2 linked regions of the Homo sapiens genome follow. The protein of the gene in region 2 purifies or fractionates together with the protein of the main gene of each other region. This does not show direct contact. Each region holds a gene or a part of one and is shown on either strand. Other genes may lie near its edges.

Evidence for each region. Proteins that work in one complex are often made in the same cells at the same time.
Region 1: the proteins of AFTPH (region 2) and DDAH1 purify together in Homo sapiens (affinity purification with mass spectrometry; one large-scale study listed by BioGRID and IntAct). This does not show direct contact.

What each region holds. Positions count from the first base shown.
Region 1 is NC_000001.11:85,454,088-85,459,078, forward strand, and holds part of DDAH1 (N(G),N(G)-dimethylarginine dimethylaminohydrolase 1), read right to left. Parts: intron 1-4,991. UniProt on the Homo sapiens protein: Hydrolyzes N(G),N(G)-dimethyl-L-arginine (ADMA) and N(G)-monomethyl-L-arginine (MMA) which act as inhibitors of NOS. Has therefore a role in the regulation of nitric oxide generation.
Region 2 is NC_000002.12:64,551,155-64,556,145, reverse strand, and holds part of AFTPH (aftiphilin), read right to left. Parts: exon of another isoform or gene 4,882-4,991; intron 4,704-4,881; 5' UTR 4,672-4,703; coding exon 2,737-4,671; intron 1-2,736. UniProt on the Homo sapiens protein: Component of clathrin-coated vesicles.

The DNA.
Region 1 (4,991 bases), on a different chromosome or scaffold from region 2:
GGATTCAGGGAATGCTGCTGCCACCAAATTTTCCCCTCCCCGCCTCTGAAAAATGCAAAAGATGCAAGTTCAGAAGGAAAACTATGCTTTCCTGTCTTAACATAACCTTCCCTTAACCAGGTTAAAATTTGTCACCAAAGAAGGAAAGGTAGAATCAGCTTCTAGCAAATGGTGAAGCTGACAATCTTCCCCCTCTTCATGTTCCCCGATCACACCTACCAGGCCACATAGAACTATGGACTCATCACTAGTTTGCTGAATGGACAGGGGTCCAAACAGTCAGGAAACCATCACCGTAAGGAGTCAACACAAGTGAGAGGAAATAAAACATGACTGGATAGAAAGTAATGCTGAGATTTTGGCCATGATTCCCAGGACCCAACTGGCCAACAGGAATGGCCCTGCAGAATTTCTATAAAGAGGCTGAATGGTGCAATCCAGTTGAAAGGGGATGCGGTCGATTTTTCACATTTATTTTTTACCATGACCTAGTGTAAGAAATTTATTTACCTAATCAGTATACACAAACATAGTGTGTAAAAATGAAACAAGTTTTATGAAACAATACTTACCCTTATGACGCTATGTTGCAGTACACTCTGACATTTTCTACTGATTCTATTACAATAAAAATGAAAGATCTGGTCATGACCCACTAAATTGATTTCATGACCCACTAGTGGGTAGAGAGCAGCAATTGGGGAAAAAATGGTACAAAAACCTTGTCTTGAAGCTGTGCTCTAGTCATAATTGGACTGTTTCTACATTTGGGGTGACTTGGGAAGACTCAGAGATTAGGGAGGCCGAAGCCTTAATGATGTTTAGTTTGAGAGTAACAAAAGACGAAAGTGAAGAAATCAATAACCTTTCGACTAGGGCCCTTCAACATCCCAACTGTGTATTTTTCAGAGAAAAGGGAGCTGGAAAACCAGGGTCCCTGACAGAGAACTAGGATGGCATGCAGAAAGTTAGAAAATTCCAAAAACAAGATTTAAAAAATGGTTTGGGTATTTCAAAATAAAGTACTAGATCTAAATCTCTTCACACAAAACTCTTGAGCTGGAAAATATGATTACATCATAAATGGCCTAAAATATGACCTAAAGCCAAACTGTAGTAATAATAATCTTTCTTCCTGAAATGATGGTTCCCTTATGACTGAAAAAAATAATTAAAAGAATAAAATGGCTATGTTTTTCTTCCATTACTATTTTGAAACTGCACCAAGATTAATTCATTAATTTCACCTTTTTCAATCATTTCAGGCTAAAAATGACTACATCTATACCTTATTTGGCTAACATGTGTACACAGCTAATTATAGGAAGGCTACTTTTAAGTAGGTATCTTTTTCTTTTTTTTTGTCTTTCTTTAGAAAAATAACTTCATGTAGTTTTGGAAGCCAAAAGTTAAATATTAGAAAACTAACAGTTCAGCATCAGGAATAGAAACCAGCACACATATATGGAAGGTTTGTAAGAAAGAATTACCATGGGTAAGTCAAGACTTAGTTATAACAGAAAACACAACTTACAGCAATACCTCATCACCATTTACTCTCCATTTCTTCAGGCCACTGGTTCACATTCACCACACAAAAACATCAACTGACAGACACTGAGGAAAGTGATGTGTGATGGCAGACAGTATGTGGGTCTAGGATCTTACACTATTTCAATGGTTTTTATTTAAAGTCTTCTATAGAAAAAATTACTTGTCAAATGTGCTATAAATGGTTGAGTAAGCAGAGCTTTTGAAATAGATTTAGCAAATTCAACTGCATCTCATAATGGATTATCATTAACAAGGCATGAGTTCATATGATTAGTTAATTAAGCAGAAAAAGTATAATGTCTTTGGTTGAATAAAATCAGTATTTTTTATTTATCAAACTCCAATTCCATTTCACAAATGTAAGTTATCATCAGCTCCCCATCCACTTTCTCCCATCTTCTTATCTCTTTCCCACCCTACACTTTCTCTCCCCTACAACCCGGGTTCCAAAAAGAAAAAAAAAAAATCCCTCAGCTATTTGATCTTAATATCACTGCAAAAATCAAAACCAGTGTCTCCTGCCCCCAGGACAGTGGGTATCCCCACCTGGCTGCCTCCTGTAGCTCATGCAAAATTCAACCCATAATTATAGATGCATTCTCAGTTTACGCTGCACTTGAGATTCAATGGTGACTAATGTCAAGATGGAGAGATTTGTGAATAAAAATAATTTCAACAGCAAATAGAAATTAGTTTTGTCTTATTTGTCATTGACATGGGTAATGTACAGATGGTCCCTAATTTATGATGGTTCAACTTTCAATTTTTTGACTTTACAATGGTGCAAAAGTGATATGAATTCAGTAGAAACCATACTTTGAGTACTCATACAACCATTCTGTTTTTCACTTTCAGTACAGTATTCAATAAATTACATGAGATATTCAATACTTTATTTTAAAGTAGGCTTTGTGTTAGATGATTTTGTCTAACTATAGGCTAATGTAAATGTTCTGAGCATGTTTAAGGTAGTGTAGCGTGAGCTACAACGTGCGGTAGGTTACAAGTATTAAGTGTATTTTCAATTTATGATATTGCCAACTTAAGATACGTTTATCCGGATGTAATTCCATTATAAGTTGAGGAGCATCTGTATATAACTACATACTACAAGATGACAGGTTTTCCTGATACACCCTCATGTAACAAATTATGGGTCAAGGGGGAAAACCCCCAGCAAAGAATATACTGATAACTTACAGGACCCCCCCACCCTCCACCACCAAAAAAGTGCCTTACCAGAATCTAAATGGCAAACTCAGGAAATGTTTAAGTTTCAGACTTAAAGTAGACTTTAGTCAACTCCAGAGTGGGCTACATTGTTCCCAAACTGTGCCAGTCAGGAATCCTAGAAGGGGTTCCAGACCATTATGGAGCATGTGGATAAGAGTAAGAGGGAAGTACACTTAGAAATGAAGTGTGCAAAGTGGCCAAATCCCTCTAGACCCAAAACAAAGTAATACAGTTCTGTACCTGTTTCTTTTGGTGAACTTGGAATTGGATCTGAAATTTCAAAAGATCTGAGAGGGCACGGGTGAGTTTTTCTCAATTCTACATCTTCTCAACATTAATAAAATTAATCTTCACTGGACTATTACCCCCATCTTATCTCATCCTGTTCTCTGTATCTGGAAGGTTGCTCTTCTCTGCCTTCCCCTGGTTAATTCTCACTCAATAATCGCTCCTTCTGGGAAGCCTTGGTGTGGGTGAGACACATCTTCTTGAGCTTCCATGGCACTGGGCTGAGGTCTGTCATAAAATCTGCCCCCGTGTTCTGCAAGTGTCTGTCACTGATCTGCCTCCCTCTCTGGACTGTGACATCCTCAGGGGCAGTGGAAGTGTCTAATTCATCTGTATCTCCCCAGCACCAAACATTCAGCCTGGACATAATAGACAGTTATTGAATGTACTAACAGATATGAGTAACACAACTATTATCCCTTTACTATCAAAAGCAGTCATTTTTCACGCAATCATGGCACTCATAATTAATGCCACACAAAAACTGGAAAACTTTAATATTTCTTAAGCAAAATAATGACGACAGAATCAAGGCAAAAGGATGAAGACGGAGTTTCGCTCTTGTTGCCCAGGCCGGAGTGCTGTGGCGTGATCTTGGCTCACTGCAACCTCTGCCTTCTCGTTTCGAGTGAGTGTCCTGCCTCAGCCTCCCGAGTAGCTGGGACTACAGGCGCCTGCCAGCACGCCCAGCTAATTTTTGTATTTTTAGTAGAGATGGGGGTTTCACCATGTTGGCCAGGCTGGTTTTGAACTCCTGACCTCATGATCCGCCCACCTTGGCCTCCCAAAGTGCTGGGATTACAGGCGTGAGCCACCACACCCAGCCCAAAACGTCTTTTAATAAAGGCAAAGGTTTACTTACACATATTCAAACAGAGGAAAATGCTGATGTATGTATCTTCACTGGAATGATAACTTACCCCTATAAGCCCATCCAGCTGCAAAAGCAGCTTAAATGATATAGTCCTTTTAATTTGCTAACCTAAACTAAGTCGGGTTCTTGTCCACACTGATTTGTTGGACAAAATTAAACCAACCCTGTATTAGTTTGTACTTTTCTTTGTACTTTTTCATGCTGATTCCTCTTGTCATAGTTGCTTGGATAATCTAAACATTTAGCAACAAAAGTCTAAAGTCTGGTGATTTATTCCTTTCTATGTGATGCTACTGCTCCTTCAGCAGCATCAGCTTCAGGAAAATGATGTACATTATTAAATTACTTGATAATGACAAAGTGAACTAGGATGACATTACACACACACTTTTTTTTTTTTTTTTTTTTTTTTAGACAGAGTCTTGCTCTGTTGCTAGGCTGGAGTGCAGTGGTGCTATCTCATCTCACTGCAACCTCCACCTCCTGGGTTCAAGTGATTCTCCTGCCTCAGCCTCCTGAGTAGCTGGGACTACAGACACCACACACACATTTTAAAATGGGATTTGTTGCTTGAGATTATGCCTGCTTGTCCATTCAGATGAAAAGCCCCTGCTTATGAAATGAGCCTGAGATGTCTGACAGATTTAATATCTAATATCAGTTTAGGGGAAGTGATGGAAGCTAACTTCAAAGGTCAGGGGAATATTTTGATGGAAGTTCAGAGGATTCAGTTATGTAAGTAAATATTTATGGACAACCTGAAATAAATACTGCACTATGTTCTGTATAAGATATAAATGAAACTTTTTTCTCTCTTATTAAGGTTTTAGTCATTTTCTCTTTAATTATGGTACTCCCTTGATAAGCAGGAAGGAACACTACACATATCCAGATCTCCAGTCAAAAAATGAGGCTTTCTGAAATGGTTACAGATTTTAGTAGCAAAAGCCCATAAAATTAATAACTAGCACTCATTTTTAAAACATGCACCTCCAAATTTATATTGAGAATCATAAGATGCCACAAACAATTTACTTATGAC
Region 2 (4,991 bases):
CGTGGTGGCATGGGCCTGTAGTCCCAGCTACTAGGGAGGCTGAGGCAGGAGAACTGCTTGAACCCGGGAGGCGGAGGCTGCAGTGAGCTGAGATCGTGCCACTGCACTCCAGCCTGGGTGACAGAGCAAGATTCTGTCTCCAAAAAAAAAAAAAAAGTGAGGAATTCGTGCTGTTCCAAACACTGTCCGGAGCAACTAGGGAAAACATTTTAAGAAAAATACTAATAAATCTAATCCTCTCCAAAAGGGCTAAATTAATGCACTCTTCTAGCAGAATCTGAAGCCCAAGAAATAAAGTGCCAGCCGCAATTCTCTTTCACAACAGCAGGGTAAGAACGAGAGTCTTTGTTCAATCTTTCTCCACTTCTGACTCAGTCACTTACTCAGCAGGGTTTATCCATTTCACTACTTCAACTTTCTTCCCAAACTTCTTCTGGCCTCCTCCAGCAGTTTCTCTTTCCCAACATCCAAATTCTGTTCATTTTCCATAACCCATTAGCAAAAATAGAAGCATGAGGCCTTAGCCAAACAAATCCAAGAAAGTCTTGTGTGTGTGTGTGTGTGTGTGTGTGTGTGTGTGTGTGTGTGTGACAGTCTCTCTCTGTAGCCTAGCCTGAAATGCAGTGGTGTGATCTCGGCTCACTGCAACCTCCACCTGCTGGGTTCAAGTTATTCTCCTGTCTCAGCCTCCTGAGTAGCTGGGATTACAGATGCACGTCACCACGCCCAGCTAATTTTTGTATTTTTAGTAGAGACAGGGTCTCACCATGTTGGCCAGGCAGGGCTAGAACTCCTGACCTCAAGTGATCCACCCACTTCAGCCTCCCAAAGTGCTGTGATTACAGGCATGAGCCACTGCACCTGGTCTCAGAAACTCTTAATGCATCTTGCCCCATCTATAGTTTGTTTTATTTTTATAAAAAAAAGAATCATACTATAAAATTCTTATTTTCTAGCAGATTATTTCACTCATTTTAAAATTTCCTTTTATATTCACAAAAGTTCTTTGAAGTAGGTATTACCTTCTTTGTATATACAGCTGAATTCAGAAGTAACCTATCCAAAAATCATAAGGCTTTTTAAGAGGCTGGGTCAAAATTCAAACTCAGATCTGTCAGATTCCATGAAGCCCATACGCTTTATTATCTCCTATATCCAGTTATCAAATTATACATAAATAACTTCAATCAACTTGTATGATGCAAGAAATTCCTACTTGAGTGGTCACACTTTAAAAAATTCATTATCTGATGATGTTAAAAGTTCTAAGGCTACAAATTAAAGATCACCCAATACCAGTGTCACCCTATCCTCTAGTGAGATGAAACTAAATAGGGAAAGGGTTAGGTCAAAAGCAACAGTCCTCATTTAGCATCATAATTAGTTCACTTCTTGTTTAAAATGGCAAGGTTCTGCCTAAATAATGAACTGCTCAATAGGAATAATACACATTAGCTAAACCATGTAATAACTGAATTAGCAAATTAAACTACTTTGACACAAAAGCCAACTAAAAAGCGATTAGCTATGCACACCAACTGGTAATACCATAATTTCTCTAATATCTTACTGTCTCAAAGTTATCAAGGCAATGAAATATAAGTATTTCAATTACAAAGACTTTGGAAAGATTTCCAGTTGAAAATGGTTTTCTTAGCAGAAGATAACTGGAGAAATAAAGTTTGTAGATTCTGAGTTTATTAACAGTATATTTAAAATAAGCTTGTGGATCAGGTGTTAGTTACATATATCAATTGTCAGTATAAGGCAGTGAGGTTCAAGGGAGTGCCCTCTTCCACACCCCTGGAGTTGAAAAAAGGTAAAGTTTAGCACAGAGTAGAACTCTGGACTGGGGAACAACCTAGATATCAAGCTACACCTCTAGGGGCTACTTTAGGTCAAAGTGAATCTTAATGAATCTTTTCTGAAAGAGTCTGAATCAAAAAAGGATAATGTATAGGAGGTAAGGGGTAAAAATATTCTCCCTGACACACCTACTCTCTAGGAAGAGCTAACAAGTACATTTGTAAGAAAGTATAGGCAAATAAATACAACTACAATAAGTGAACCTATAGTTATTTCTTATTTTAGGACTAAACCTTAATTCATCTCATACCCTCACCCCAAGTCTTTTAGCAGCTGCTAAATTATGAGGAAAAAGAAAAACTTGCTTTTTTCTAGTTGTTTTTCTGTTCTTCAATTCACTATAGCCTTTGGCACAGAATGAGGTTTCAAATTCTGCTTGTTCTCTCCTGGAATCAAAACCGTACTTGAATTTCCTAGGTCTTTGATGGAAAAAATTAACATTCTATTCTTAAGCTTAAAAAAAAAAAGATCCAAATCTCAGTTTAACCTTCTTTTAAAATCACTGTAAAGGGTAATACTGAAGGATTGACTGGAACCGTCAATTAGGTAATAAGTGTGGGTTTTTTTTTTTTTTTTTAACATATATGGTATTTATAGTCACCAAAAAATCCAAGTTGATGAGTATCTGTAAATATTAACGAAACTCATTGAGATAAAGAAAAATCTTACTGCGCTTTACTATAGGACTATTTGTAGTTTCCCAAAGGGTTGTGAAAAATGTAACCAACCCACAAATCAGACAGGCATTATACATCATAACGAGACTCCTTTAACAAGTACTCAGTTGAAAAAATATTTTTTGAAAAGCTGAAATTAGAAGCCTCCACAACAATTAATACATCATACAAAATAGAGAAAATTAGTAAATACCTGAACTGAAGTGGCTGATTCCTGTAAATGGCCACTAGCAACTGCTCCTTTGGAAGTTGCTGAAGGTACACTGTGCGTTTTGGGGGTTCCTGGAGTATCAATATTTTCATCTGTCCTATGTGACTGCCAGGCTTCCTTTCGATGATGAGATTCAGTAGCCTGCTGGTCTCCAAAAGCAGCCCAAGAACAACTATCTTTTTGTTCATCCTCAAAAGCATTCCAATCTACAACTTGGCTAGGACCAGCTGAACTGAAGTCTGCAAAATCATCAGAGTCTTGAAAACCATTGCAGTCATCCTGAATATTTGGCACAGAATCAAAATGTCCAATCTCACCTTCTTGCCCATTTTTAAGTTTTGCAACAGGTTCAGTGCCTGTTCCACTAGATTTTCTTGCCAATTGACATTCTTCTGATAAATTATCAGAAGTCTGTTTTAGGTCTGACTTTGTTAATATTGTCTCCTCTTGGCAAGAAACAGCATTTATATCCCCAAATTCTCCAAAGTCATCACCTGGTTCACTAAAATGTGGAAAGTGCTCTGAAGACTCTTCAAAAGTGGCATCACTCATTGAATCTTGAGTACCAGTAACAAAAGGTGGAGTTGAGCCACTGGCAGAGCCAAAGTCACCAAAATCACCAAAATCATCTTCATTGATATCATTGCAAGTCACAAAGTCATTACTACTATCACCATTTTTTACACTTAAAGAATCATCCAAATCATTTTCTTCTGTGGGGTCAATGTTTGGGCTTTGGAAATTAGTAAACTTTCTACTTTCTTCTTTGGGAGAACCAACTTCATCATCAGAAGTTTTAACAGAATCCATGCATAGGTGAGCACATTTAGAAGTAAGTAAGTCAAGTTTTTCTTCAGTTTTACATTGTTCTCTCCTAATGGCTTCTGAATTATCAGCTGAGTCTACCAAACTCCAAGCCTTTGACTGAACACCTGACTGTAAAAATTCATCCTGTTGCAGTGTTGGAAGGCCTTGTTTTTCAACACTGAAACCTCTGTTAGTCACTATGCTTATTTCTGAAACACAAACCTGATCCTCTCCATCAGTGTCTCCTTTGTTATCCAAGCTTCTACCCAAAGCCACTTCTTTTACAGAATTCAGTTCATTGACTCTATTAATTTTATTGTTTTCCCGAATGGTTAGTGCTTCTCTATCATTTAAAACTGCACATTCTATTTCTTCTAATTGTATCCTTTCCTTTTTGGAAAATGTGGCAAAATCTGCAAATTCCTCAGCAGGACTAGGTACAGAGTCTAAATTATACTCAGTGCTATGAGTGCTAAGAGGCTTCCGTCCCTTTGAATCAGCTACATTGTCCAGATCATCTGTTCCCTGAGGATTTACAGTTTCCAACACTGCAAACCCATTTGTTAGAATCTCCAGACAAGGAGGCTTTTCACCATTGCAGCTCTCTAACTGCTTGTTTTGATGAACAACATTCATATTAGTTCTAAAATCTCCTGGAGAGAAACTTTCAAGTGTTCCAACATTCTGTCTCTGCTCCACTACTTTATTTAAATTTCCTGGTCTTTCCATGCCATCAATGGAAGTAGCTAACATTTCAGATGAAATTATTTCTTTGCTGGTGGTAGAAAGTAAAACATCAGACTGTCCTTTCACAGGAGCAGAAAGTTCAGCAGTGATGTCCTTATCATTACCATTTTTAATGGACTTAAAGCTTGTAAGGCTATCTACATTTTCTGAGAATTCATGAATTGGCATAAAATGGTTTGAAGGTACAAACTCTTCCTTGGGACGAGTATAATCTGGTGTATCGAAATCAACAAACCCTACACCAGAAGGGCTAACTTCTGAAAACCCACCAAATTCCCCAAATTCATCATCATCATCATCCTCTGCTCCATTGTCTAATGGTGGTGGGGATGAAGAGTACATTCGAATGATGTCTGGCTCCATTGTTCAGTTGCTTTCAAATAATTAATTTACACCTGTAAAAAAGAAAAAAAGAATTTTTGGAGGGGACAGATTACATAGAACAAGATCTTTCAAAATTCTCTCAAAGCTACTTTAAAACAATGCAAATTTACAATGCTCTATTTTGTCTCCTTTTTTCCTTGACCATGTCCTGCATGATGTTTTGTATCTTTTAATCTATTTTTCTCTTAGGTGCAATTACTTTACACAGCTATAGTGCACTGGAAAAAAAAAAAGTTCTCTTAGACTACATGTTACCAAGAGCACTGGTAGTACATTAATGAAATGTGGGGATTCCAGAT